Regions from separate parts of the Homo sapiens genome. Here region 2 is linked to region 1. Evidence: fine-mapped expression QTL. A gene starts in region 1. The other region holds a variant in brackets. All regions are shown on one strand. Distances are between the middles of the regions.

Region 1 (15,429 bases):
AGCTTTTTTCTTCTCAAGGGAAAACTGTTAAGGAAAGCACCTTTCAAAAATATTATCTTTGAAGAAATAAAAGGAAATTTATCATGATTTGGGAAGTAGAATTAGTCTAATTATGCTTTTTTTTTTTTGCATCACTGCCAGCACACATATATGTTGAGAGCCATTACGTGTAAAATACCTTGTCAATGGATGTTTAAAGAAGCATTAGGTAAAATCCTGCCCTTTAAGAGAATGTGTTATGGTTAGGGAGCTCAACCATTAGCAAATGTTACAAATAGTTGTACTCTAAGGCGACATAGAGTAACTACTAAATACGTGGCACAGACAGTACAACTCACTTCTAACTAGAATATCAAGGGATGGCTTCACTAATGCATTCAGAGGGAAATGCTGAGATAAGTGAGGAGATAAAGTAGTTACTGTCCTTGAGGAATTTACAATCTATTAAGGGGGGGAAAAACTACAAATAATAAAGTGCTGTTGATGTCAAAGATCAGCTACATTTTAGACAGGCATTGAAAGAGGATTTCTATAGGCAGACAGGGAAGGAAGGACCTTCCAAGCAAAGAAGTTGGTGTTCACCATAAGAGGATGCAAAAGTGGAGGGTGATAGCATCAGAAAGTAGATTAGGTTGGCTTCTGAAGGGGTGTGACTGTCAGATAAATTTGTATTTCATTATGTAGACAATGGGGTTACATTAAAACTTATTTTTTGAACAATGAGATGGCATAAAATAATATCCGCTGATAAATCTCTTGAGTTTTTCAAGAAGGTGACAGTGTATACCATGATGCTAGTTCCAATTTCCGAAAAGTTCCAGATAAGTGAGAACTTCAGAATAGATTTGACAAAATGAATATCAACAGACAAAATGAAGTCAAATGGGGGTCTTAGTTATTATCCTGCTCCATACCAGAGGCATAATCTTTTTTGATTTGATGAATCTATGGAAGTCATTAGACATTTTACACAAGAAGAAAATAGAAGTTGTGAGAAGGATAAGAAGTGAGTCATGCATGCATTAGGTGTTTGTATGTGTTTAGAAAGGTTGGATTTAAAGTTTGGTGATAATTTTGTTCAGAAATGGAGTACCTCTAAGCCTTTGAGATGTAGTTATACTTCATTTTCCATAATAAATGAGTTCCCAAAAAGGCATGTGATAATTTTTTTCTGCAAATTAATATATTTATTTATATAAATTATTTCAATATATTGAAATAGTTTATGTTTAAAGCCACCCAATTGTGATTGCCATAAAGTGCACATATTTTAAATTAATTTGTTTACCTTATTTATTTGCCTTTTAGATGAATCTAGATTTTCTACCTGTATACTTTGATTCAATTAATGTATGATTATTTTTTAGAAACTTCTACTTGTCATGTTTCAAAGCTGCACATTAACTGAAATTCTATATCTTGTTGCTTCCAGTCTCTAGTAGCCAGTGAAGCAGTTCGTGCTATTGAGAAAATTAGTAAAAATACCAGGTATACACATGGCCATGGCTCAGAAACCTTATGTAAGTATTTCTTCTTATGATCTTAGAGAACTTTGAGCTACTAAAGAAATCTGTGTGATCTGTTTTTCTTTGTGTATTTAATTTTTCTGAATTAAATAGGGTCACATGTAATACAACTGAATTGTAATAATTAGGAACAGAAGCATAATAGCTATGACAATGCTGAACAAAGCTATATTAATAAATGAGTTACTAAAAAGAAGCCAAAATCCTATTTAAGAAATCATATTTATCACAATCAAGTAGGAATTACAGAATTGGCATCATACTAGTTGAGTGAAGCAGAAAAGTTCATAAAACTTTTGCATGATTCCCAGGGCCACCATGGAAGGTTGTGCAGGTTGTACACTACACTAATCTAGGGCATGCCATTTGCATCAAGTGTTTTTTAGTGTTAGCCTGTTCCCAAGAGTATAGCTCATAACACATTACAGTTGATTGTCTTTAATATATATTACACACACAAAACTTGTGACAAACTCTTAACAAAAAGTTTTGATTAATTTTTGCTGAAAGATATTTAGTGAGTAACTCCTATCTACACACAGTGGGAGGACAGACTGATTTTGCCCTTTTGAAGTTTGAAGGGAGATGGGAAAAGAGGAGCATAAAATAAACCTGTAACCAGGCATCAGAAAACTACAGCCTGAAGGCCAAATCCAGGTTTTTCCTTTTTTTTTTTTTTTTAATGATTAGAAAAAAACAAAAAGAGGCCAGGTGCTGTGGCTCATGCCTGTAATACCAGCACTTTGGGAGGCTGAGGCAGGAGGATCACTTGAGGTCAGGAGTTCGAGACCAGACTGGCCAACATGGTGAAACCCTGTCTCTACTAAAAATACAAAAATTAGCTGGGCATGGTGGCAGGCGCCTGTAATGCCAGCTACTTGGTTGGCTAATGCATAAGAATTACTTGAACCTGGGAGGTGGGGGTGGCAATGAGCTGAGATTGTGCAACTGCACTCTAGCCTGGGTGACAGAGTGAGACTCCATCTCAAAAAAGGTCGAAACTGTATTTATCATGAACACTAAAATATGTACACATTTTAGTTAACATGCATTAAACTGTAACAAGTCTTCTGGCAATTGTAGCTTTCATGAGATGCTTCCCAAACTGTATTAGATAGATGCTAAAATTATAAATTAAAATTTTGGGTCAGACTTTGCCATAAACCTGGACTCAATTTAGCACCCCCCCAAAAAAAGTCAGATTATTCAATTAATGCGGTTGGAAAACCTAACAAGTTACCTAGAAAAAAATTAATTGGATTATTAACATGTCTTTCACCAAAGTAAATTCCAGGTACAGCATATATTTTCATATGAAAACCCTGCATAAACCAAGTTGAAATCTCAGTAAGGAGAAAAAATTCTTGTGAAAGGAGAAATGAATGAAAGGAGAAAAAAAGGTCTACATGCCAAACAAAGCTAATAACACTAATGTCGTTTTTATAAGCAATTGATAAAATGAACCAAGTAGACAAATGAGGAAGGACAATTGATAGGAAATATAAAGATAGCCAATAAATATGCCAAACAAATGTGCAACTCACTGATAATCAAAAAACATAAATTAAGACAGTTGGATATTATTTTTCGCCCATAAAATTATCAGAATTCATAATTCCTATTGATGGTATGGGAAGGGGAAATGGGCAAATTCATACCCTGCTTGTGGAAGTATAAATGAATTCAGTTCTTTTGACGTCCATTTGGGAACATGCCGTAATTGCAAAAAGTACAGAGCCTTAGACTAGCAAATCTATTCTAGGGAAGAATATTCTAAAGAGACAAAGAAGCAATTATGTATAAACAAGGGTACTCATTGTAAAGTTGTTTATATTAGTTAAAAACTGAAAAAAATCTAAAGGTATACAAACAAATAAACATTTAAATCAAACAATTCCCAGTTTGTAAATTAATTTGAAACGTCTGTATTTCAACAATTTCTTTCTTCTTCTTTTAGACCTAGCTCCTGGAGGTGGGGACGATTGGATCTATGATTTGGGCATCAAATATTCGTTTACAATTGAACTTCGAGATACGGGCACATACGGATTCTTGCTGCCGGAGCGTTACATCAAACCCACCTGTAGAGAAGCTTTTGCCGCTGTCTCTAAAATAGCTTGGCATGTCATTAGGAATGTTTAATGCCCCTGATTTTATCATTCTGCTTCCGTATTTTAATTTACTGATTCCAGCAAGACCAAATCATTGTATCAAATTATTTTTAAGTTTTATCCGTAGTTTTGATAAAAGATTTTCCTATTCCTTGGTTCTGTCAGAGAACCTAATAAGTGCTACTTTGCCATTAAGGCAGACTAGGGTTCATGTCTTTTTACCCTTTAAAAAAAATTGTAAAAGTCTAGTTACCTACTTTTTCTTTGATTTTCGACGTTTGACTAGCCATCTCAAGCAAGTTTCGACGTTTGACTAGCCATCTCAAGCAAGTTTAATCAATGATCATCTCACGCTGATCATTGGATCCTACTCAACAAAAGGAAGGGTGGTCAGAAGTACATTAAAGATTTCTGCTCCAAATTTTCAATAAATTTCTGCTTGTGCCTTTAGAAATACAACCATGCATTCCGTTTGCTCCACGGTAATTAGGCGATGGCCCAGAAAGGGGAGGGGTGTCAAAAACGACAAACATAGCCTCTCATTCCAGCTCAGCTGCTCAATAAACACTGTTGAACGAATGAATGAGTGGCTCTAGGTACTGTCAACAAATGCCGCATTTTGCGCATTTACAACAGCTGTTTATGGTAAGGAATTATGTAATAAAAAGAGAAAACTCACTTAAATTCACTTTTAATTGGGAATTTTAGTTCTCCCGGGCTCCCAGTTTCCTTTCCTAGGATCTCTCACAGAGCACAGATTCGATTTCCAAGTCCCGCCGCACTCTTACCGCTCGCATGGAACCTTACGCCTAGAGGGCGTGTCCACGAAGGGTGGTGTCTGCGCACTGACGACTAATCTGACGGCCGGAAGCTGCCTGGGTCTACAGAGGAACAGGGCAAACCTCTGACTTCCGGCGGCATTTTGAGGCGGTCCTCCTAGCGGCCTGGTAGTGTTTTTGTTGCCTTTTCTTAATCTACAATCTCTTCGTTATTTTTCTTCCTGCGACCCAGTTTCGCTTGACCCTGGAGAGGCGGCGGGCGGGTTGGTTCTGCTTCTCAGCCATCCCGGGGGCTCCTCGCTAGCCAAGAGCCGGTTCCCGGGAGCCGCGCGCGCATCGCTTTCTCCTCGTCGTCGTCCTCCTGGGTCCAGGCGCGGGGACAGAGTCGCCTCCCCCGCTCCTCGGAGCGGCGGCGGCGGTGGTGCCTCCGGACTGCACTTGCGAAGGGAGCTTGGGGAGGAAGTAAGCGTTCTGTGAATTGGTGTGGGTATCTGGGGAAGGCATTGAGCGGACCCGTAATGCGGAGGCCCGGGTTACCCCCCCCCGTCTTTGCTTGAGTCACTGGGATTTTGAGCTTTCCTTGAGCATCCCACCCTTAACTCTGCAATAGCCCCCTGTGCTCAGGCGTAATTTCTCACTCTGATTATGATTCTGGCATTTGTCTAAGGGCGATAAGTAGACTCAGACAATAGGCTGTACCCCTCGTTACCATTTGATGTAAGCACGGGAACCCTTGTATGGTGTTCGTATTTGTGTGCGATGGAAGGGTGCAGCAATTTGGGCTTAAATTTAGAATCTTCCTCTATACTCATTCCAGATCTGTTAGAGAAAAACATCTTACTTGTGATTGGTCTTGTTTTTTTTTTTTTCCCTCAGCAGTGATAACGATTTAGGTCCTGGGAATTGAGTGCTACTTTATCTTCACAAGCCTTAGGTAGGTAGTTTTGGCAACTGTCAGAAACGGGGGAAAGTGGAATAGAAAGAAGAGAGTCTGTTTGGCGGCATTATCTCTCTGTAATAGGCTAACGCAATTTATGTGGTTTGAAAATTATTTAGAGTTGATAATACTTGAATTATGTTGGTAAGATGTTGTTTGTGAAGGGTAGTCTTAAGGTATTTGGTTATACTATGGGGCTTTCAGGTAATTCGAACTACTTTGAAAATTATGGGAGTATGAAGTCTCTTAAGATTTTTGGATTTTTAAAGTAGTTTTAAAAATTTGGAAAACATCTTTACACCTCAAGTTTTCGAAGTCCGCGATACCGTTGGAGAATAAATACTTATGCAGTTCAGTCTATGGGTATATGGTGCCAGTTAGCGGGGTCTAGTTCTGTAACATTTGAAATTACTGGCTTTAGTACAATATATTGGAGCGTTTTGTGAATACAATCTATAGATTTTCAAATAATTTTTATTTTCTTAATGAACTATTTAGATTATAACAGATGACAGTTTCAACTAGAGACTAGCAAAGTTGATGCAAGCTTGTAACAATTGCGGCTTTAAAAATAGTTGCACTCTGAAACTAAGGCTTTCACTCTGTGCATCTGGTAGGATTCAGTTTTATCAAATGTATGCCTCTTACTGGCTTCCTGATTACTGGTCATTCTAAATGAACATTGCATATTTTGAGATTTGCAAGCTTATGTGATTTTCATATTTGTAATATGAATTTAACATACTAAAAATCCAGCAAGTGGATGGTATCTTAACATCTTTACAAATTATTAAAATTGTAATATCATCAGTATTTATAATATGCATTGGCATTTACATAGAGGAAACACATTGTTTAACTTAAATTTACTTAGAGAGTTGGTTTTCAGTGGATGATAGTCTTCCTCACCTCCTCATCTCTCCCAACTCCATCTCATATAGAGGTGGAGCTATTTCTCCAGCTGTTAGTAGTAGTTGAAGCATTAACTGCTGTTGATATAGAAAGAGTCTTTTATTCTTTTTTTTTTGTATTTTTGTATGATGCAGTTCTTTTTACTTCACTTTAGAGTAGCTACCAGCATGGGATGTTTTCTGTGCACAGTCTTTTTAACAAATTGTTTTTTCTGCATAGTACTGCAGTGTTGCTTTGCTAATTCCTATGTAGTCAGCTTAGTTCTGTCAGTTGTATTTGGAATTTAGTTTGGAATTGTTTTAGCATTAAATTTACGGAAGCAATCTGAAAGTTTGTTTTAGAAAGTTCTTTTTAAAAAATTCTCTCAAACTATGCATCAAATAAAGTTAATTTTTCTTTCTAAAAATATGAAGTATAAATGTGAAGATACCTTATTTTTAGTATCACCTTTTTAATCTTAGAAATTCAGAGTATAGGGATTTATCCTACTAGTTAGTACATTCATGTAGTTTTAATTGCCTAATTGTTTGAAATTTCCCTAATATTATGCCGCTACTCATCCGGATTAAAGTGTTATGCTTTCACTTATGCTTCCAGTAGATGAGACCTGGAAAAGATAATTAATTATGGATTGAAGTGAAGATACTAGAACGCATATGTGTTTATTGACAAGATTTTATTAATTGAGCTTCTGGAGTCATTATTCAAAAAGAGACCCTTTTGTATGCTTCTCCTTTCTCAGCCATAATTATAATGTGAACCTTCTGAGTACAGTGTTATTCTAAGTTTCTCGGGGCAAGGGAGCAGTTCCCATTTAAGACCCTCTTTTGTTGTGTCTTTATTAATAGACTCAAACTTTGTGTCCCGGATTTTCTTTTTCTTTTTCCATTTTCTTTTTTAATTGAAAAGAGATTATAAAGACTTCAGATATTCATTTGCTCTGCAAATGGAGAGGAGAAATAGGAAAATAACGAAATAGGCTTTCACTAGTGCCACTCTGTCTTTGATAATGCTCGTGTTTGAGAAAGACTTGATGATGTGGGTGGAAGTGTGATGGCAACTTAAACCAAATAATAATTTGAAAACAAAAATGGAGGAAAACCTTCATAGAAGAGTAAATTAGTAAGTTATTGGTATGACCTTGATTTCTATTCTCTATGATAGGAAAGACTTTAGTATTTACATTTTTATCTTATGGTTTCTAATTTTTCTCATATACTTTGAAGCATTTACTTGTCATGTTCAGCCTGTTCATACATAATTTGAAAAAGTTTCCCGCCCCGAAAATCTACATTTTAACTGTTGTGGTGTTCATTTTCCTTTACGGGCCCAAAGTTTTAAATAGGATTGAAAATTCTAATTGTCACATTAGTTGGTAACATTTAGTTTTAATATATGAAAAAGGAAATGTTTTTCTGCTGTATTGTAGATAGTGTGTATATTTTTAGATAAATGGGATTTTTAAAGTTATATATTGTGTTCTTTACAAGCATGAAGCATTTTGTTTATTCAAATTCATGAATGTCTCATTAGTAATATTTAAGTAACATTTTATTGTTGACTACTTGTGGAAGTTTTTACATGGATGATCAGAAGAATTTTTTCAGTTAGAAATCTTCAGTTTCTGCTTTTTTCTTTTTTCACCAGACGTTTTACACACACACATATATATATCACATTAAAGAACATTTTATTAAGAATATGTGTGTGTGTATTATTGTTGTCATTATTCTTGTTTTAAATGTTCAGTCCAGGACCTTGCTGTAACCCAGACCGCATACTCAGATGCTGTATTACTTTAGGACAAAGTATGGTACTCTTGGAGTCTGAGAAAAAGTAGAGTACATCTTTTTTTTTTTTTTTTTTGAGACGGAGTCTCCCTCTGTTGCCAGGTTGGAGTGCAGTGGCGCGATCTCGGCTCACTGCAACCTCCACCTCCCGGGTTCAAGCGATTCTCCTGCCTCAGCTTCCCGAGTAGCTGGGATTACAGGCGTGCACCGCCACACCCAGCTAATTTTTGTATTTTTAGTAGAGACGGGGTTTCACCATGTTGGCCAGGATGGTCTCGATCTGTTGGCCAGGATGGTCTCAATCTCTTGACCTCGTGATCCGCCTGCCTTGGCCTCCCAAAGTGCTGGGATTACAGGCGTGAGTCACTGCGCTTGGCCACATTTTTACTTAATTTCATTTCTTCGCTAAATTGGGAGACTCAGTACAGTAGTAGCTGCAAGTGAAATTCCTGGGATAATTACTATGTAGGTGAATCTTGAATAGTTCTTGATGTCACTGGTAAAAGCAATTTTGTCTCTGTGGAAAGAATATGGGCGTAGGGTGAGGGAGGTGAGGAGGTGGATCATTAGTCTTCACTTGATTGTCTTTCATAGCAAGTCCAACCCTTGAAATCTTCAAAGTTTTTTTTTTTTTTTTTTTTTTTTTGAGGCGGAGTCTCACTCTGTCACCCAGGCTGGAGTGCAGTGGCGCAATCTCGGCTCACTGCAAGCTCCGCCTCCCGGGTTCACGCCATTCTCCCGCCTCAGCCTCCCGAGTAGCTGGGACTACAGGCGCCTGCCACCACGCCCGGCTAATTTTGTTTTTGTATTTTTAGTAGAGACAGGGTTTCACCATGTTAGCCAGCATGGTCTCGATCTCCTGACTTCGTGATCCGCCCGCCTCGGCCTCCCAAAGTGCTGGGATTACAGGCGTGAGCCACCGCGCCCGGCGAAATCTTCAAAGTTTGCCTTAGGGAGTCTAGGATTGGAGAGAAGCTCTCAGACCAGCAAAGCAATAGGTCAAGGGAGGAGAGTAGTGCGAATCAGGCAACAGAGGACAGACCAGAAAAAGAAACTGTAGAGTTAATACCTGGAACCCTCAAAAAGTAAAAAGAAAGGAGATGATAGATGACCAATGTTTTAAGTATAATAAGTACGATAATAAATAGCCTGTCGTCCTAACTGGAAACCATTACCATTGAATTTTTTGAAGGAGACTGAGCTGGGAGTGGAGGCATGTTGGGGGTAGTAGAGATGTTGGGGGCAGAACTAACTCATTTCCAGTGACAGTGGAGGGAAAAATAAAAAATTAGTGTTAGTCCACTTGAGGCAGTGTGGTGGGATGGTTGTGCCTGTTTTCTAAGTTCTACATAACTAGCAAATAAGGAAATTTTGGAACCTATTCAATTTTGTTTATTAAGAAATGTTTTAAAAATTGAATTATTGGTTGAGGATTACTCTATATTTGTATATTAATGTAGCAATATATAATGAAACTTTATGTTTTTCTCAAACTTCTTATACATTGTGATACATTTACTTATTATTGAATCATGCTTGGATATATATTGTTAAAAAAGTTTTTCTCAAAGCTCTACATTTTCTAGATCTTTCTCAGCTCCACTTCTCTTAGCTTTCAGTTTTTTCGTGCTCAGTAAATCAAATAGACATAGGAAATTTTACCAGCTTCTCCTCCGTATGTTCACATTTCAGCTGAGAATGAGTCTAAGAAAAATTAAATCAAAGATTATCTTATAATGCTAACACCAGTATGTAGAATTGGTGTGTAGTTCCTTACTTGGAGAACAATTAATATTTAATTGATTTTGTGTTGCAGCAAATTATTGTTTATGTGATGCTCTCCACTGGTTCTTAAATTTATAATTACTGTGAAGTAATTCTGTTTTTAAAATCACTAAAAATTAATTGCTATTATATCAAAAGAATTATTACATTTTATATTGATAAAAATATAGATTTTCCAATTTAAAATCACCATATATTATTTCATATTTTCCTTCCTTGATGCACCATCTTTTATTTATCAAATGTTGTTCTTAGTCTTTGGATTCTTTTAAAAGTGTGACCTGAAGTACCTCATTGAACCAAACACTGTTTATAATTTTTTATTGCTGTTTCAATTAGGTACTACCACGATTTAATTTCCTTTAAAGTGATATGTCTTTACTTTGAAACCACATTAAAGATTTGTGATCTTTATAGAGACTAAATGAAACTTTTTTAGCTGCTGTGGTTCATTCTAGTAACTTTTGATGATTGATAAGATTTCAACTAATATTTAGTTTGTATAAAGCGGGATATAGTATGGTGTTTTTTTTCCTTCCCCTTATGAGGCAGTTTCTACCCTCTTCCCACAGTAGTGTATGCTCTGGATTGTATCTTGGTCTAGAATTTAATATTGTTTTCTAATGTCATAATATACTGTCATTATCTGATACTTGCAAATCTAGTTGAATTACCCAATTATGTCATTGGATTAGATTTTTACTATAGTTTCAGTTTTTGAATGTTTTATTTACATACATATATATATATAGAGAGAGTTTTTTTGTTTTTTTTGAGATGGAGTCTCGCTTTGTCGCCCAGGCTGGAGTGCGGTGGTGTGATCTCGGCTCACTGCAAGCTCTGCCTCCTGGGTTCATGCTATTCTCCTGCCTCAGCCTCCAGAGTAGCTGGGACTACAGGCGCCCGCCACCATGCCCAGCTAATTTTTTTTTTTTTTTTGTATTTTTAGTAGAGACGGAGTTTTGCCATGTTAGCCAGGATGGTCTCGATCTCCTGACCTCATGATCCGCCCGCCTCGGCCTCCCAAAGTGCTGGGATTACAGGCACGAGCCACTGTGCCTGGCCCTTAAAAAATATTTTTATGTTTACATCAAATCTAACAGAGCTTAAACGTAAAATAAAATAAAAATATTTTTACAATTTGCCTTTTTTGTTATTACTAATAATGGTAAAATAGTCTGATAATTACTTTTAACACCTTTGAATTTTATGTCAGTGTAGTATAGATTATAGAAACACCTCGACTTTTTCTAGTTCTACAGTCTGTCCTGTTTTGAAAGTTGTTTCTATCAACATTGAGTTTTGTTTTGTTTTGTTTTTGTGTTACTGGAAAATAAATATGCTTGATCAGATTGTTTTGACTTCTGTCAGGCAAAGAAAATACTAAAATATCATTCATTTTTCTCAACCTGATTTTTGGAACATAACTGCTGTTGTCCCTTAAACTTATGAAACATAATTTCTGCTATGAAAATTTTCACCCAATTTTATTTTTCCATTTTCTTTAGCATAACTCTTTTTCAGTTAACCAGTTGATGGTTAACAACTTTGAGTTACTAAATTTTGAAGCAATTTTTGTAAGTAACTTTTATAAAGTAAACATTTTGTACTGTATCTTCTGAGGTTGATTGTACTATGAAAACTTCACTGTGTGAGTAGGATCATATTCGTTCACTCTGCAGAAGAGGTACAATTCTAGCCAACAGATCTCACAGCTGTTATAAATTCACCAGTAAGGCATGTTTTAGAAGATATTATCTCTGTTTACCTGTGACCTCTCCTATGCTTTTTTTTTTTAATCTCCCAAGGAAAATCTCCTGTAATTTTACACTGTTACCTATAGTTTTATCTACTTGTAAGCTGTGGGCTCAGTTATTTAAAACTGAGGAATTTTACAGTTTTGCCTCTTTCTTTTTTGGTTGAAGTAGTACAAAATGTCAAAAATTAGAAGGAAGGTCACAGTGGAAAATACCAAGACTATATCTGATAGCACATCCCGAAGACCCAGTGTATTTGAGAGGCTTGGACCCAGCACTGGCAGTACAGCAGAGGTGAGTTGTCACTAGTATAGTCACAGGGGTTCTCTTAGAATTCTATTATTGAAATGCTTATTTGTATCATAAAGGTGAACAGGTTGTTTTATTGTAGGAATGTTTGTTCAGTAAATTTTTTAAAGTGTGTTTTATAAAAAGAAGTGAAAAGGGTGATAAGGTTTATGGGTTTTTCCATATTTTTTTCCTGAAGTTTTTATTATTTGGGGAGTAATATATCACAGGTTAGCTGGAATTTTGGTAGCATTTGTTTTAATTTTGTCCCGCTAGCATTTTTTTTTTCCAGAAATAAATATGAAATTTACATAGTAATATCTGTCTCTTAGACACAGTGCCGTAACTGGCTGAAGACTGGCAACTGCCTCTATGGAAACACATGTAGATTCGTACATGGCCCTTCACCTCGTGGTAAAGGTTATAGCAGCAATTATAGAAGGTAAACTGAGAACTTTGTATTGTTCATGTACTATTAGAAGATGGCTTTTGTAATTTATCTAGTATAAAAATCTGAAATACAACCATATATTTGGTCAGATTTTCTATATTGGTGGTAGTCTTACCAGTAATTGAAGATCGACAGGATCTTTTTGTTATTTTCAAGATTAATAAAATGTTTGCTTTCAAATTAACTTATTTGTTCATTATTTATTTGTTTTGACAGTAGATCTTTTTGTAGTATGTGTATGGCTTACTTTTTCCCCCCTAATTATGTATTAAATTGCTGCTTAAGACAGCAGAATTCCATGGTGTCTGAATTTCTTTTTAGTGAGGCTATTTTTAACTCTTAAAATAGTAAAATTCAAATAGGGTATAATTTTAGCTGTTTAAGATGTTCTGAATTCAAATTTTGTACAAATTCTATAGGTTAAAATGCATTTGCCAAATCCCTTAGCACAGTATGTTAATGAAAATATGTATTTATATGTGGATGAATATGCTCCATATTTCGAACATCGTTTTGCCTTTAATAAAGGCTTGGCTAGATTAAACTTGCTTAATAAAGACCTTTTATTTTTCTTTTGGTTCCCTCATGATGATTATTTTATGGTATTTAAAGATGTAATATACATAAAGTTTGTCACAAAAACAGTTTTAACTTGATTGGTAAAGAAATAATTTACCTAGATCCAAAATTGGTTACACTGATTGTTTTGGCTATAGCATAGCAACACTATAAAAACTGAACATTAGCAATTGGAATTTTTTTTTTTTTTTTTTAGTTGAATGATTTTTTTGGGGGTAGTGTATGGGTAGATTTTGTTTAGGAGAATTTAAAATTCAAACCCTCAACATTAGCCAACTTCTTTTTCACGTAAACATTGTACATTTTAGTTTATTTGTGATTCTGAATACTGTTTTATTTGTATTTAGATTGTCATTTGTCACTTCCGTTAATGTGGGAAGATTAGTGTTTATTGTATATGTGTGTTTACTTGTATATATACACGTAGATACATACCTGGTGAAACTATTTCGATACTTTTAATGTTTTGCTTTAATACTATACTTTTGATACATTTTAAAATTTATCTTTGAAATTTATTAGCTGACTCAGAATTTTTATTCAAGAAATCATTTTGAGAAAAATGGTCAGAGAAATTTGTCTAAAATGGGAAAAAGTAATGTCATTGCTAGACTTAGAATAAAGAATATTTATTATAATTTTGCTATTTTGTGTATGATTTTCCATCTGATAACTTCTTTCGTATTTGTGCATTTTTTTTGTCGGGAGGAAAAACATAGTTCATAATGCGAGTCAAAGATAAGAAAAGCAATGTATTTTACAGAATGCTTATTTATATGTTTATATACAAGACTTTTACATAATTAATTGAGAATTCGCTGTGTGTAAAACATTCATTCTGTTGGGTGCTGTTTAGGATAGAAACAAGTTCATACTAAAGTGTTTTATTATATAAAGGAAACCAGGGCACATAGGATTTACATGTACATCATTATAATTTAGAGCACTTAAGTACTGGTTCTTAGTAAGAGATTCCAGTTTCAAGTTTAGCTTTAACTGTTAAAACATTTAATATAAATCTATTACATGTGCATGTAAACATTAATGAGATCCTTTAAAGTGAATTAACTCAAATTATTTCTTTACTAACCTTATGATTTATATTCATAAAATCAAGGAACTGATTTGATTGCCCAATGACTGCTTGAAATAGATGTGAATATTTATGTGATTTGTTTATATCTTTTTTATATATAGTACTTTTTGGTAGTCAAAGAGGAACAGAGCATTCCTTAACTTCTTTTGCCCTGTTTTAAAGGTGTTGTAGAAATAGTCTTTAAAGGCAGTCTGTTTTCCATCTCTCCTTTGTTTTTTCCCACTGATAGTGAAAATAATTGCATAGCCATATACTGTCAAATTTCTAGTATAAATAATAAAGCCTTACCACTGTTGAGTATAAATATGTATTTTTCCTTTAGTTAAAAAATTTACAGCAGAATATGAAAATCACTGTTGTAAAATTGCCTTGAATCCTTTATCTTTATTCTGAAATAATTTAAAATTTAAGATAAATTTTAAAGCTCCTATATTTGCTTTGATTCTTACTTAAGGTACATAAAATATTTTCTCAGTTATTGATGTTGCATCCAACCACAGGCATGTGTATACAAGAAACTTATTTCTTGTAATATCTTCTTATATCTTTCAGTATAAATGATAATGCTGCTACCTCTAGATTAATTTTGCAACTTTGTAGTTTAAAACTTTGTGTTACTACTACATTTTGCTCCCACATATAACTAATATATTTATGTGATTAATAGGAAAACAAGTCAAGCTATTAGTTCCTTTTTCTCAGTTCACATATAATTTCTTATTCACATCACCAGTACCTGCCACTTCGTGGAATTTAACATATACATTTTGATTGTTATTGGGAGAAAAACTGTAAGTGTTGCTCGTGTTTTGCATATTAATATTTAAGGTGAAATTTTTCAGAAATTCAGGAGTCAAGGTCAGTTAGAAAAAGTGTATTGAGATTTGTGAGGTTATTTCTGTAAATACATTCTTATAAAATGTTATTAATATATAAATACAGATTTTTGTTGTTTTGTTTCGTTTTTTGTTTTGTTTCTGTGTTTTGGTTCAAAGGTCACCAGAAAGACCTACAGGGGATCTTAGAGAAAGAATGAAGAACAAGCGCCAAGACGTGGACACTGAGCCCCAGAAACGAAATACAGAGGAGTCATCCTCACCTGTTAGGGTAGGATTGAATTTCCCAAAACAAAGTTCAACTTCAGTAGTGATTTGTTAATTTGAGTTTCATTTTAAATATTGTGTGCTAAATATATGGTAAATGTGTAATACGGCATTATAATGTTCTATATGGATAATGTAATTTAGAGGGAAAGAGTCCCCTGGGAAAACTGTGATTGGTTCAGTTCTTTATGGTAGTTAAGATGAAAGGGATTAGTTGGCAGAACTCAAGCTGAACTTAGTAGGGATTTTGTGTAGGGATCCCTTAGTAGGGATCCTTGACGAGGATCATGAGTATCTTTAAGTTTTCAGAATTCA
Region 2 (15,429 bases), 77 kb after region 1:
TATGTTGGAATGTTTTCACTGTAAACTGTATTTAAGCAATAATACGTACCCATTTTTTTCTTTCATTATTTTTATATATCTGTGAATTAAATATGAAGAAATAGTTTTTATTTTTTGTTTTTTTTGGGGGGACAGGTTAATTTTAATGAATCTTATTATTTTATGATTTTATCATATGACTTTTATATAGGTAGGGAAAACTGGGACTTCGTCTACTCAGGTCAGTCATTGGACACCTTGGTTGTTCTGATTCATTGCTTGATACTCTTTTCAGGAGTGATTACCACACTTTGGAATATTAAATATATATATTAGTGATGTTTAGGAGGAAAGATTATGACTGATGAAATTTGTTGAATAAAGTGTATGTGGTAAACATTTGTGTGTCTATCCTTTGTTTAGGAAGTCGAGGCTCAAGAGGTTCTCAAATTGATAGTCACAGTAGTAATAGCAACTATCATGACAGCTGGGAAACTCGAAGTAGCTATCCTGAAAGAGATAGATATCCTGAAAGAGACAACAGAGATCAAGCAAGGGATTCTTCCTTTGAGAGAAGACATGGAGAGCGAGACCGTCGTGACAACAGAGAGAGAGGTTTGTCAAACAGAATTTTATTAAATAGTGAACAATATCAATTGGGCGAATTGTTTTTTCAAACAGTTACCAATTTACTTTTTAATATAAAATATACTTTAAGGCTTGTGCTCGATGACACATTTGAAACTATTATATATACTCATATAATCTTTGTTCACATGGTTTAGGAGGGATTATGTCAATAGCTAGTGACCAGTACCTACTGGCAACAAAGTGCAAAAACTTGGGTGCCCTACTGTGTGTTTCTCATCTTACCCAAATAGCTTACAAACCTTTAAAGAATGTAGATGGTTGGGTTCTATTCCAGGCAATTCTGATTCAAGAAATACCTAAACCTTTACATCTGAGTATCCTGTCTACTCACTCATTTGCTATGATCAATAGAATTTTATAAGGACTTCCAGAAAGGAACAGTAAAAAAAAACTGAATGATAGGGCTGGGGATTGTTTAGAGAAATATTTTATTTGTATTCTGTCCTGAGAAGATATGGTATTTGCTTTAGCTAATTTTACGTTCTTATATGTCTTAAGCTAAAACTTTTTCTGTTCATCTATCAGGTGATCTCTTAAATGAATTTTGAAGCAAGATTACTAGGAAGCACTTAAGAAGGGTTGTAAATACTTTCTTTGGCAAGCTTTTATTTCTGTACTTATTAGGGCCTTTAAACATTAAAAATTTTATGAAGGTCTTACTAACCTTGGCTGAAGTAAGGTTCACTATAATGCTGAGATTAATATAGCATGAAACTTGATGGCCCAGAGAATTGAATATTGATACTTTACTATGGGCTGAATCAAAGAGGTAATATTATATCTTGATTGGTTAGTAGTGGGAGAAGAATAAAGTTTCTAAGGCATCATCTACTTTTGGGAGCATAGATAGGATCAGAAGTAGGAGAATTGATTAGGTTGAGTTTATAAGGTAAGCCTAATGCATTTTGGTTAAAAGATGTGTAGAATTTCCTTAGTTACAGATAGGGCTGGAGTTTCTATGTTCTGTGTTGATATCTGAAATTTTTTCTTCCCTGGGACTTTTAGAACTGGTGATGCTTTTTTTTAAATTTCTTTTTTCCTTTTTTTCTATTTTCATATCCTTGCTCAGATTTTTCTCATCTCATGCCTGAATTCAATAGTAACATTTGGTTTCAATCTTATGGTTAGTTCAACCACATGTATTGATCTTCTACTAGGTGCCAAGAACTTTGATAGTTGCTTTACATATATTCTGACTTAGTCTTTACAATATCCTTGTAAGTGTAGGTATGATAAAATAATTCATGTTTTCACAGTTTTGGGGATTAGATCTAAGAGTAGTAAGATTACAATATTATAGAGAAGTAGGTTCCAGAGCTGGAATTCAAACTCAGGTCTTCTGACCAGAAGTTCAGTTCTCTATTTTAATTTTACTGTAACTACTTCAATAATTATGAGATGTATGATTGAAATAAAAATATATTTTGGAGGCTAATGAATATTTTACAAATATTTGTTGAGTACCCATGTCAGGCACTTTGCTAGGCACTTGAGGTACAATAATTTCTTGTCCTTGTAGAATTTAATGGGGAGAGGGAAGAACTCCCCACCCAAAAAAACAAAGTGTGATAAAATGCTACTACTGTATATAAAAGTTCTGTGAGAAGACAAAGGAGCAAACACAATTCTGAGCAATTCCAAGAAAGCTGCCTAAAGAAGTGACATCTGAATTAGGGCCTGAAGAATAAAAGGAAACTATAGAAGGAGCACTTTACAGGGAGAGGGTGCAGCATGTACAGACACCAGAACTGAAAGAAACATGTGCTTTGGAGTAGTAAGGAATTATGAGATTGGAGTCAGAGTATGCTATAATTGGCAAGGTAGAAAAGAAACCAGGGAAAAGGACTGATGAAAGACTATAGGCCAGGTAGTAAATGACCTAAGTTTAGCCTAGTCAGGCTAAAAAATTTGATTTTAATTGCCTTTCACTGCCTACAAGATAACTACTTTTAAACAGTTGGAAGAAATAATTTTCATCAAAAACATATTAAGGGTGTTGGGAAAGATTGAAAACAAGGATACCAATTAGTTAGACTGTTGATGACATAGGCATCTAAGAAGACCTGATCAAGGTCTGAGTTAATAACTATAGCTATGGGGACAGGAAAAGGAACAAAGAAATATTTTAGAAGTGAAGTTGATTGTACTTGGATATGATGAGGCTTAGACAACCCAGAGATTGTCAGCTTTAATGAATTGGTATGTCATTTATTAAAATAAGGAAATATGTAAGTAGAAGCACATCTTTGAATAACACATTTTGGGGGAAAGATAGGGGAAGATAATTTAGACATTTTAAAGTGATGTTCTTATATTCTTTCCATTTTCCTTTGAAGAAAGTAGCATTGATATTTTGGTTGGGAAAATACATCTCCCATAAAAGCATGTCTGAATAGTCTATTTGCTGATATTGCTGTAATTAGAAATTTAAAGTATGATTTGCTATAAGTTAATGGTATTGAATTTGTTTCAGGTTATCTTGTAATGATTATGATGTTGGTATGACTCCTCCAAACCAGGAATTCAGACAATACAAAAGATGGGTAGATAGCATTCTAGGAATCCAAAGTATGGTACAGAAGAACCACTTTAAGTTGGTTTCAGCAAAAGTGAAAGGGTTTAAGAAAACTGACTTCTAATGCATCTACCATCTCTGTGACATTGGGAAGACAACTCTGGACCATAATTTCTGTTTTTAAATAGAAAGGGGGAGAAGCAACTGTGTAGGATTTCATTTTGATTCAGCTTTAAAATGCTATGATCATTTGTATCTGGGTCTATAACCTCTAAAATAGTAAAGATAAGATAATTCTTGTCTTTTCAATCAGTGATTAGGAAGGGAAATCCAGAATACTGTATTGAACCCTTCCTAGAAACATCCTAAAATTGTTCTGCTTAATGAGTTGATGTTAGATGTTCCACTTACCAACCTGTTGGCCTGATTATAATATGATCTTTATCAAAAACCAGTAGATATATAGTATGTAAATGGAAACATCACAGTATCCTAGATCAGACCGCAGTAGTTGCTTTCAAAAATGGCTGTCTCTTTGAAAAAGTTCATGCCATCCTCTTAAACGTTTTTTTATCCCAGACTAATTTTCTGCTCAACTGGGTATTTGGGCAGCATGCATTCATTTACTCTGTGTTTATGTGATTTGTGTGTACATGGAAAAAATTTATATAAAATGTGATGAGGTTATCAGTTAACATTTTAAGAAAACAGCTCTTCATCTGAGTAATCATTTATGTAATTAAAGCTAATTTATTAGTAATTGGTTATTAATTACAAATATATATCACTAATATGAAACACTTTTTACATTTATTTCAAGATTGCTAGACATCAGTACCCTTAATATTACAGTTCATGTTATATTGCAGCAACAAATTCTGACATATGTTTTGTTCTACTATATTTTCCTCACATAATAGCTGCACTTTGATGTGTATATATTTTGGCCTGAAATTAGAGGTGTGACTTACGAGGGAAATTTTTTTTTTCCTTCAGCTCCTATGTTCTACACCTCCTGCTGCCCCTATCCTTTGCCACCAGTGTTCTCAGGTCCTGCTGGGGGGACAGAGAAGATCAGAGGTGAAGGGTAGAGATGGCAGAAAGTGGGGTTGGAGCAGTGGGCTGGAGGTAGGGTAGGGAGCATGCAGAGAAAGATCAAAGATTGATCAGTGGGAGGGGGGAAGGGGGTTGACGGGGAGCAGGAAACATGGTCGTTAGAGGGCAAATAAAAATTATCTTTAAAAAATTTAAGGTCTAGGGGCGATTGTTACTTGGATATTAAGTTAAAATTAAATATGCTACTTGGTTTGTAATTTGTTGCCAGTGTGACCCTATCACAGATAAAATTTAAGATTTACCATGCTGTCTTACCAATAGGTTATCTGTCAAATTAATCACTGACAAAACTTGATTTTCATTGTAGATCAAAGACCAAGCTCACCAATTCGACATCAGGGAAGGAATGACGAGCTTGAGCGTGATGAAAGAAGAGAGGAACGAAGAGTAGACAGAGTGGATGATAGGAGAGATGAAAGGGCTAGAGAGAGAGATCGGGAACGAGAACGAGACAGGGAGCGGGAGAGAGAGAGGGAACGTGAACGGGATCGGGAAAGAGAAAAAGAGAGAGAACTAGAAAGAGAGCGTGCTAGGGAACGGGAGAGAGAAAGAGAAAAAGAGAGAGATCGTGAAAGGGATAGAGACCGAGACCACGATCGAGAGCGGGAAAGAGAGAGGGAACGAGACAGGGAAAAAGAACGGGAACGAGAAAGAGAAGAGAGAGAGAGGGAGAGAGAGCGAGAACGGGAGAGAGAGCGAGAGCGAGAACGGGAACGAGAAAGAGCGAGAGAAAGGGATAAAGAACGAGAACGCCAAAGGGATTGGGAAGACAAAGACAAAGGACGAGATGACCGCAGAGAAAAGCGAGAAGAGATCCGAGAAGATAGGAATCCAAGAGATGGACATGATGAAAGAAAATCAAAGTAAGAATAATTATCAGTTATTAATAACATTTTACATTTCAGGAAAGAATTCAAAGTTTCATTTAATGCTTTTCAATATACTCTTAATTTCCTGTTAATTTTTTTTCTCTGTATATTTTCCTGTTTTTCAAATTTAGTATATGTATCGGTGTTTAAAGTTTTTTTACCCAGCACTTTGGGAGGCCGAGGCAGGCAGATTCCTTCAGGCCAGGAGTTTGAGACCAGCCTGGGCAACATGGCAAAACTCCATCTCTACAGAAAATACAAAAATTAGCCGGACGTGGTGGCACGTGCCTGTATCCCAGCTACTTGGGAGGCTGAGATGGGAGGATTGTTTGAACCTGAGAGGCAGAGGTTGCAGTGAGCCAAGATTATGTCATTGCACTCCAGCCTGGGTCGAGACCTTGTCTCAGGAAAAAAAAAAAAAGTTTTTTCAGTTGTCTAGAAAAAATAATTTTTAAATTAAGACAGGAATCAGTGAACTTGTATCCCATCACATCCCCTAGACTAGTCACCAAGGGATATCACCTGTGCCATTCTGATGATCCTTCATGACTTTTATGTGCTTGTAATTATGGAGTCACTACCCCCAGGCTACAGGAAGCATTCACAATGTCTTGGAACTGAGGGAATCCTTGTAATCACTGCATGGTTCGAAGATGAGAGAAAAGGAAGTGTCTTCTCTTGTGCTGTGGAGTAGTTCTTTGGGGTCAAAAAATGTGTTCTTGGCATCTGATATACCTAAGGGCATTCTCCCACCTCACCCCCTTTTAACCAGAAAAGAACTTATTGCTCAAATATCTAGGAAGTTGGAGATTAGCTTTTGCTTGTTCTGATGTGGCTATATCCAGATTCTCAAACAAAGCATTAGCAGTTTCCATCTCTCCAGTTTCCCTCTGTATTAATTTCAGTCTCAGAAAGGTTTTCTCCATATGATGGCTAAGATGGCCCCAGAGTTGTCCCTGTCAGCTTAGCAGTCCTCTCTGAGTTGGGGCTCTCATTAGTTGGTGAGGAGACAGTTATTGACTAAGCTGATCACAGTGTTCATGAGAATTCTAGACTCAGATTGGTCAATTTTGAAGTTCTGTGGGCACAAAACCAAACTTACTAGAGTTAACTACTTTTTTGCCTCCAACTGGGATAAACACTGTGGTTTACCTTGCCAAAACATACTGAGAAAATAATTTATGTATCTTCAATTTTCTTGCTCTTACCTCCAACTCATTTGCCACAGGGCGAATACAGGGTCCCTGCTTTAGGCTTTTTTCATCCTCACTATTGTGGATTATGGTTAGGGCCAAACAACACAGCACAGAAGTAGAACTTTCTTCCCTTAGGTCTTGGCTGTTCTTTAATCTACAGCCATGGTTTTCTGTAGTACACTCCTTGGATTACTTTCCTGCTTCCCTCTCCTTACATTTTGAAAAATCTTACCTGAACATAAACTTCAGAGATACCTTTTTTAACACATGGAGGCACAGGTACATATTCCCACCCTCCCCACCCGCTACTTTTCTGACCTCTTTATTTTCTAAGATTAAAATTCTGAAATCTTTGTTATTTATCTTTTATTCAGTCCTCTGCTTTCATTAGTACAGATTGAGCATCCCAAATCCAAAAATTCAGAATTTGAAATGCTCCAAAATCTAATGTTTTTTAAACACTGACATGGCACTCAGAGGAAATGCTCATTGGAACATTTCAGATTTTCACATGAAGGATGCACAACCAGTAAGTACAATGCAAATATTCAAAACCTAAAGCATTTCATGGATAAGGGATACGCAACCTGTATTTTTTTCATGCTTCTGATATCTGCTTATAATAGCAAAAGTTTTTCTGGTTTTTCATGGTTAGACAATCTAAGAGTTGACAATGACCCCAGAAATTTAGAAGTTGAATAACTCTATAACAGAAACTAATTACATGAGATTAATATCTTAATCTTTCATTAACTGTATTGTCATCTCAGTAGTTCAATTTATCCAGCACTTTTTTTAACTGCTCTTATGTAGAACGTTTGCCTAATTGCTGTATTTATTTTACTCTAATTGTGTTTATTTAGGTATTTCCTTGAAATAACTTTTTCTCATGTTTTAAATTTTCACTTTATTCCAGTCTGTCAGTTATCTCTTGATATATAACACATCACCACATAAGTTAGTAGCTTAAAACAACAACCATTTATTTGCTCATGATTCTGTGGATTGGCAGTTTTGCCTGGGCTCAATAGAGTGGTTGTTCTGTTGGTCTCACTTGGAGTAACTCCTGTATCAACATTACATCTGACAATGCAGCTGGGCCTGGAGGCCCAGGATTGTCTCATTCATGTGTCTGGCAATTAGGGCATCTTGTTTCTCCTCCACTTGACCCCCTGGCCTTCAGTAGTCTAAACTCTGCTTTGCATGTAATGGTAGAAACAACAAGAGGGCAGAAGCTGAAGCAGCAAGGCCTCCTGAATCCTCTTCACATTTGCACAGTGTCACTTTCACCACATTCTCTTGTCATAGCAAGTCATTAGATATGAAAAATGGGGAAATAGGCCAGTTATTGATGGGAGAGGAGCTTTGGATAAAGTAGTACACAAGCTTGGGCCTGTGAGTTGTCATATTACACCTGGGGCCTTCTCCACATGGTTGTTCATCTATATAAAGGAGCTGTCTATGATATACATGTGCTGGTATGTTTTTGTTTTATTTTTATTTCAATAGCTTTTAGGGTACAAGAGGTTTTTGGTTACCTGGATGAATTCAGAGATTTTAGTGCACCTGTCACCTGAGTAGTCCACATTGTACCAAACATGTACGTTTTTATCCCTCACTCCCCTTCCACCCTCCCCCTTCTGAGTCTCCAAAGCCCATTATATCACTCTGTATGCCTTTGCATACTCATAGCTTAGCTCTCACTTACAGGTGAGAACAAGTTGCTGCAAAAGACATTATTTTTTTCCTTTTTATGGCTGAGTAGTAGTCCATGGTTTCATGGTGTATATATACCACATTTTCTTTATCCACCCATTGGCCAATGGGCACTTAGGTTGGTTCTATATCTTTACAGTTGTGAATTTTGCTGCTATAAACATATATGTGCATGTTTTTTTTTTTCATATAATGACTTCTTTTCCTTTGGGTAGATACCCAGTAGTGGGATTGCTGGATCAAATATCTCCTTTTAGTTCTTTAGGGACTCTCCATACTGTTTTTCATAGAGGTTGTACTTATTTACATACCCACC[A/G]GCAGTGAATAAGCATTCCCTTTTCACCATGTCTATGCTAACATCTCCTGTTTTTTTTACTTTTTAATGGCCATTTTTGTAGGAGTAAGGTGGCATCTCATTGTGGTTTTTAATTTGTATTTCCCTGATGATTAGTGATTTTGAGCATTTTTTCATACGTTTGTTGGCTGTTTGTATGTCTTCTTTTGAGAAATGTCTATTCGTGTCCTTTATCCACTTTTTGATGGGATTATTTATGTTTTTCTTGCTGATTTATTTGAGTTTCTTATAGATTCTGGATACTAGTCCTTTGTTGGATACATAGTTTGCAAACATTTTCTCCCATTCTATGGGTTGTCTTTGTTATTTATTTTGCTGTGCAGAAGCTTTTTAGTTTAATTAGGTTCCATTTATTTATTTTTGGTTTCGTTGCGTTTGCTTTTAGAATCTTGGCCATGAAGTCTTTGCCTAGGCCAGTGTCCAAAAGAGTTTTCCCAGTGTTAATTTCTAGAATTTTAATGGTTTCAGGTTTTAGATTTAAGTCTTTGATCCTTCTTGAGCTGATTTTTGTTTGAGCTGAGAGGGATCCGGTTTCATTCTTTTACATGTGACTTGCCAATTTTCCCACCACCATTTAGTAAATAGAGTGTCCTTTCCCCAGTTATGTTTTGTATGCTTTTGCTGAAGATCATTTGGCTTTATTTCTGGGTTTTCTATTCTGTTCCATTGGTCCATGTATACAATATGTTTCTTAACTTTTGACCATAGTATTTATAAACAAACAATGTTAGTGAAAAAACAGGTAGTCAAATTTTAATGAAAATGGGGGAAAACACTAGAATAATTTAAGTACCCAAGAGATATAAAACGCTACTCATTTAAAGCTCAACTAAGGAACAAAAAATATAATGAACGTATGAATTATTTTATTAATTTGTCAGCAAGAAAGTGATTTCCATGAAGGGGAAAGGAACTAATTTTATGGTGTACCCACAACATATTTGGCACTGGGTTTATGACATAACTAATTTATTCCTTACTGCAATTTTATGAAATGGACTCTCATTTCCCACCCATTCAGCCCCACCCACCATTTTCAGATGAGAAACTAAGGTTCAGTGACTTCAAGGAACTTACTTAAGGCTGCGTAATAACTAATGTAGTTATAAGTTGAACTCATAGCTTTTTTACTTCAAAGCCAATATTAGGTTTTCTCATTCAGCTCTGCAGCATAAGGCATTTTTATATCATAAGAATGCAAAATTGCTGAATGTTTATATCAGAGGGTACATTAATATATTGGTTTCTGTGCTGCATGTTACCACCTTACAGTATTTAAATCTGGCAATTTTCACTTGAGTTATTCTACATGTATAATGAAGAAGAAGAAGAAATGTTGTGTATTTTAAGTTCACAATTCTTAGCAAATGAAGTAAAGAATTTGTATTAAAGACACTGAATATCCTTTGTATGATACACTCTGGCAATATTGCTTTCCTACAATTATATGTTCCAGTTATAGTAAAGAGATACTAGTAAAAACAAAAAAATCTCTTTTTTTGCCCCCTAGAATTTTATAAATTGTGTTTGCTTGTCCAATTTAGGAAGCGCTATAGAAATGAAGGGAGTCCCAGCCCTAGACAGTCCCCGAAGCGCCGGCGTGAACATTCTCCGGACAGTGATGCCTACAACAGTGGAGATGATAAAAGTAAGCAGACTCTGTTTTCTGTCTCTCTATATTCATATTCATTTGTAACCATGAAACCATCCTTTCATACTAGTAGGAACTGATGAATTAAGATTTTTAAAAAGTTGTCTTGCTTTGCTGCCTCTAAATATCTCCTTTTGTGACTAAAGTATGTGTTAGAGTACTGTCATTTTCTACTATTTATAGTAAAGCCATATTTTTATTTTTACTAAAATTATTGTCATTTTAAAAGTTTTTAAATGATCTTGATCTCTTGATCTCATGATCCACCTGCCTCGGCCTCCCAAAGTCCTGGGATTACAGGTGTGAGGAGAAATTATTATAATCTATATGTACCATGCAGTGGTTACTAACCTGGTGAGAGTGTGATTGCTTTTATCTTTTATATAGATGAAAAACACAGACTCTTGAGCCAAGTTGTACGACCTCAAGAATCTCGTTCTCTTAGTCCCTCGCACCTCACAGAAGACAGACAGGGTAGATGGAAAGAGGAGGATCGTAAACCAGAAAGGAAAGAGAGTTCAAGGCGCTACGAAGAACAGGAACTCAAGGAGAAAGTTTCTTCTGTAGATAAACAGAGAGAACAGACAGAAATCCTGGAAAGCTCAAGAATGCGTGCACAGGACATTATAGGACACCACCAGTCTGAAGATCGAGAGACATCTGATCGAGCTCATGATGAAAACAAGAAGAAAGCAAAAATTCAAAAGAAACCAATTAAGAAAAAGAAAGAGGATGATGTTGGAATAGAGAGGGGTAACATAGAGACAACATCTGAAGATGGTCAAGTATTTTCACCAAAAAAAGGACAGAAAAAGAAAAGCATTGAAAAAAAACGTAAAAAATCCAAAGGTGATTCTGATATTTCTGATGAAGAAGCAGCCCAGCAAAGTAAGAAGAAAAGAGGCCCACGGACTCCCCCTATAACAACTAAAGAGGAATTGGTTGAAATGTGCAATGGTAAGAATGGTATTCTAGAGGACTCCCAGAAAAAAGAAGATACAGCATTCAGTGACTGGTCTGATGAGGATGTCCCTGACCGTACAGAGGTGACAGAAGCAGAGCATACTGCCACCGCCACGACTCCTGGTAGTACCCCTTCTCCTCTATCTTCTCTTCTTCCTCCTCCACCGCCTGTGGCTACTGCCACTGCTACAACTGTGCCTGCAACTCTTGCTGCCACTACTGCTGCTGCCGCCACCTCTTTCAGCACATCTGCCATCACTATTTCCACCTCTGCCACCCCCACCAATACCACCAATAATACTTTTGCCAATGAAGACTCACACAGAAAATGCCACAGAACACGAGTAGAAAAAGTAGAGACGCCTCACGTGACTATAGAAGATGCACAGCATCGCAAGCCTATGGATCAAAAGAGGAGCAGCAGCCTCGGGAGCAATCGGAGTAACCGTAGTCATACGTCTGGTCGTCTTCGCTCCCCATCCAATGATTCAGCCCATCGAAGTGGAGATGACCAAAGTGGTCGAAAGAGAGTACTGCACAGTGGCTCAAGAGATAGAGAAAAAACAAAAAGCCTGGAAATCACAGGAGAGAGAAAATCTAGGATTGATCAGTTAAAGCGTGGAGAACCCAGTCGAAGTACTTCTTCAGGTAATAAAATTGAATTGTGATCTAGTCACTGTTTCCTAGGTTAGTATATTTTATACACATTTTAATTCTAAAGTAATGCTAAATTGGTTACTTTACATGCTGCCTTAAATTTTATGCAACTTTTTAAAGAAAAGTTTAGCTGCCCTATCAAAATGTTACCTGTTATCACATTAATACCAACATTATAATAGAAATACATACAGTAGTGTTAATCAGTTTAATATCAGGATTTTAGTAGTATGTCTTGGTGGAAGGGTTTATGTGTTCAAGTCCCTTATTGATGCCTATGATTTTAACCTTCCTGCTATTCTTCATGCAGTCAAGGCTGCCTCTTTTGACCACAGAAAATAAGATAGGGGAGTAGGAGGAGATCAAATAATGGAGTGATTAGTTCTATTAATGCCTAATCATTTTATGTACTTCTTGGAAGATATTTTATGGTTATAGTGGAAATAGACAAGGAAACTTTTTTTTTTATTTATTAGAACTTTGAGAGAGGAATTTTTCTTAAAATGATTTATATATTTGGATATTTATAGAGAGAAATGTATATGTAGAATATAGAAATATATAGAACATATAGAGACAATATGGAACATAGAAAGTTACATAGAATATGGAAAAAGGTAAATTATGTTTTAAAGGACCTTGAAATGAAGCATTTTGTTTCTATTTTATCATGTGCTAATAACTCTTTATATATGGTATATTTATTTTAGATCGCCAGGATTCAAGAAGCCATAGTTCAAGAAGAAGTTCTCCAGAGTCAGATCGACAGGTCCATTCAAGATCTGGGTCATTTGATAGCAGAGACAGGCTTCAAGAACGAGATCGATATGAACACGACAGAGAGCGCGAGAGAGAGAGGAGAGATACGAGGCAGAGAGAATGGGACCGAGATGCTGATAAAGATTGGCCACGCAACAGGGATCGAGATAGATTGCGAGAACGAGAACGAGAGAGAGAACGAGACAAAAGGAGAGACTTGGATAGGGAAAGAGAGAGACTAATTTCTGATTCTGTTGAAAGGGACAGGGACAGAGACAGAGACAGAACTTTTGAGAGTTCTCAAATAGAGTCTGTGAAACGCTGTGAAGCAAAACTGGAAGGTGAACATGAAAGGGATCTAGAAAGCACTTCCCGAGACTCTCTAGCCTTGGATAAAGAGAGAATGGATAAAGATCTGGGATCTGTGCAGGGATTTGAAGAAACAAATAAATCCGAGAGAACTGAGAGTCTGGAAGGTGAGTGCTACCTCTGTTGTCTGTGATACTGCTTTATTTCTTTTCAGATTTCGTGGGAAACAACTATTTTCTTTTGAAAGGGCACCCACTAATGGGCAAATTGACTCCATTCTCCATTCTTCTATAGAGGAAGTAGATTTCAGAAGGAAAAGGCCTGTAAGATAGAGATATATATATTTTTTTAATGTGGTCCCCTTAGCAGTACCATTAAGGCAGATTTGGTTCACATAAACCTAAATGAAATAAAAGATTGTTTAGATGCAGTGTGTATAGATGTTGAAGAATAACCATCACATCCTTTTCTTAGATGTTAAAAAAATAAGATTACAAAAATTGAAATGACTTCTTAGTTCAGAGAGGGATTCAAATAATTATTAGTGAATCCCTATTTTCTAGGGCAGTTGAGAACAAATATATGAAACAATAACACTACCTAAAACTGTATTTAATGTAGGATTGACTAGAATCCCACTGGTACTCCCTAGTCCTAGAATAGGAATGCTAAGTCCGCATCAACTCAGAGCCAGCCTCAGCTATGTGAAACCTCACTCTCCATGCTTCTGTTCTTTACCCTTCAGCCCCCATTTACTAGACAAGCTGACTCATGCCTTTCCATTCTCTGCCCTTCTTTGTACCCACTCATACCATTTCCTGATAGACCTTTTTCTTTTATCTCATCTTTCTTACTCAAAATTCAAGTCCCAATTTATACATTATTTTCTCGATGAAGCCTTCTCTGCTCGAGGCACTTACTGTTTCAAATTCATCTCTTCACATTACATTTTCATCTCAATTTTGAGTATAAATAGCATCAAATCATAAAGCATGGTTCTGATGGAGGTACAACCCTGGGATATAATTGAATATAATTGAATTAATCATTATAATAGCTCTCTTGTGATTGGAGTCAGTATCCCTCATCTCTAAAATATATAATTTGCTGGTTATGATCACAGATAATATAGAATAGAAATGTATAGGTGAATCACTTGCTATGTGATGTAAAGTTTTTACTCAAAGTAGGAAAATGAGTTGGATCAACTTGAAAAGTTGAAAATCCTATTATGTGCATTTATGTTTAGATGTATGTTTATATGACAAAGTTACTAAAATTGGTTACATTAGAAGTGACTTAGTGAGGATATGGGGAGATTATTATAGAATTTAATAACATGGAAAATCACTAGAATGACTAGAAACATCTCATAACTTCTTATATTTTATTTGCTGCAAATTCATACCCATAAAGCATATGGTTACATTTTGAAACTTAGTATTGTAGATTCAGTGAAATGTATGGTTAGCTAGTGATTGTAAACGTTAAGTGTATTCTGTAATTTTAGGATTAAGTTCACAACTAACTCACCAAGAGACAAAGTTTAGCATAGGTGGTTGAAAAAAGTTGGTAAAATAAAAAAATAGAACATACACTAGTGGAACTAACAAAGTTATTTTTAATTGTATTAAAGCATTTTTCTAAAAATTGTGTTCATCAATGCAAGAAGATCATTGAGATAGGGAGGAGGAATTGAGATGTTGAGAGAGAATTAGACACTTCTTGTATTTTTACCTCACTGTTGTAAAGTTTATATAATGAGCTAAATAATATGAACTAAGATTTAAGCTTCGAGTAAATTTTTTAAATGTTTGCAAGTTTTTAAATTACTTTGTTTAGATAAATTGTGAAAATTTGAAAATATAACTTCAAAATCTTTTGAAGTTAGATTTGTCTGAGTTTTAAAGTTTTAAATTATCAAAAATAATACACAGTCAACATTAGTATGTTAGTAGTAGCTTTTATTTGTCATATTTTTATTGTGATCTTATAAGCTGTTCTCATAATTGCTGTCCAGATTGTATTCTTGCTATTAAAGTTTAATTTAACTAATTAAATTTTATTTTTGTTTTCTTTTGATATTATCAAGTATTTGAATAATTAAGAGATACAGTTTTCTGATGAAAAGATGTTTTTCACATTGTTATAATGTGTGTACCCTCTACCTTTTGGTTTGACTTAGTCATCCTCTCCCTTTAATGTTGTCTTTGATCTGAAATTAATTTGTCTATTTAGCAGGAGATGACGAGTCCAAGTTAGATGATGCACATTCATTAGGCTCTGGTGCTGGAGAAGGATACGAGCCAATCAGTGATGACGAACTAGATGAAATTCTGGCAGGTGATGCAGAAAAGAGGGAGGACCAACAGGATGAGGAGAAGATGCCAGGTAACTATTTGCAGAGGTGGTTAAACATGAAAATTATCTGTTATATGATATTAAAGTATTATTACCTTCTACTCTGTAAAAATTGACCTAAGACACTTAGAATTTTTCCTTTTACATTTTACTTAAGGTTGAAAGGCCAATAAAATGAAAATTATAGCCTATATGCCTACTCCTTTTTAAGTAGGCATTGTCTATGAATTAGAAAGGGCCTCATTTAAAATAGCAAAATTCTAAAGTTTATTTTCCAGAATTTAAGAATCATATTATATGACTTGGAATCTAAACAAATACTGATTGTCTAG

Alleles and levels. Alleles are on the strand shown, and positions count from the first base shown. SD is a standard deviation of normalised expression in the study named.
As copies of G replace A in region 2, the expression in sigmoid colon of the gene that starts at base 4,536 in region 1 goes down (small effect, 0.13 SD a copy in GTEx).

Evidence for each region. PIP is the estimated chance that this variant, and not a neighbour inherited with it, causes the effect.
Region 2: its variant is the best candidate, but not a certain one, in a credible set for the expression of ZC3H13 in sigmoid colon (GTEx, PIP 0.61).

What each region holds. Positions count from the first base shown.
Region 1 is chr13:46,041,853-46,057,281 of GRCh38, reverse strand. It overlaps ZC3H13 (zinc finger CCCH-type containing 13), which reads left to right and starts at 4,536. Exons shown (of 19, transcript NM_001330564.2): 1 at 4,536-4,878; 2 at 11,766-11,891; 3 at 12,218-12,327; 4 at 15,007-15,118. The coding sequence starts at 11,775. CPB2 (carboxypeptidase B2) reads left to right here. Exons shown (of 11, transcript NM_001872.5): 10 at 1,433-1,520; 11 at 3,484-4,096. The coding sequence ends at 3,668. It overlaps CPB2-AS1 (CPB2 antisense RNA 1), which reads right to left and starts at 4,434. Exons shown (of 3, transcript NR_046227.1): 1 at 4,317-4,434. RefSeq lists enhancers at 4,371-4,570, 4,581-4,750, 4,280-4,815, 4,816-5,352.
Region 2 is chr13:45,964,978-45,980,406 of GRCh38, reverse strand. It overlaps ZC3H13 (zinc finger CCCH-type containing 13), which reads left to right. Exons shown (of 19, transcript NM_001330564.2): 11 at 403-594; 12 at 4,569-5,124; 13 at 9,942-10,045; 14 at 10,436-11,659; 15 at 12,379-12,903; 16 at 14,975-15,127. Among named protein-coding and RNA genes, the nearest start is that of ZC3H13, 80 kb to the left of the region's middle. The variant A/G (reference allele first, on the strand shown) is at 8,359.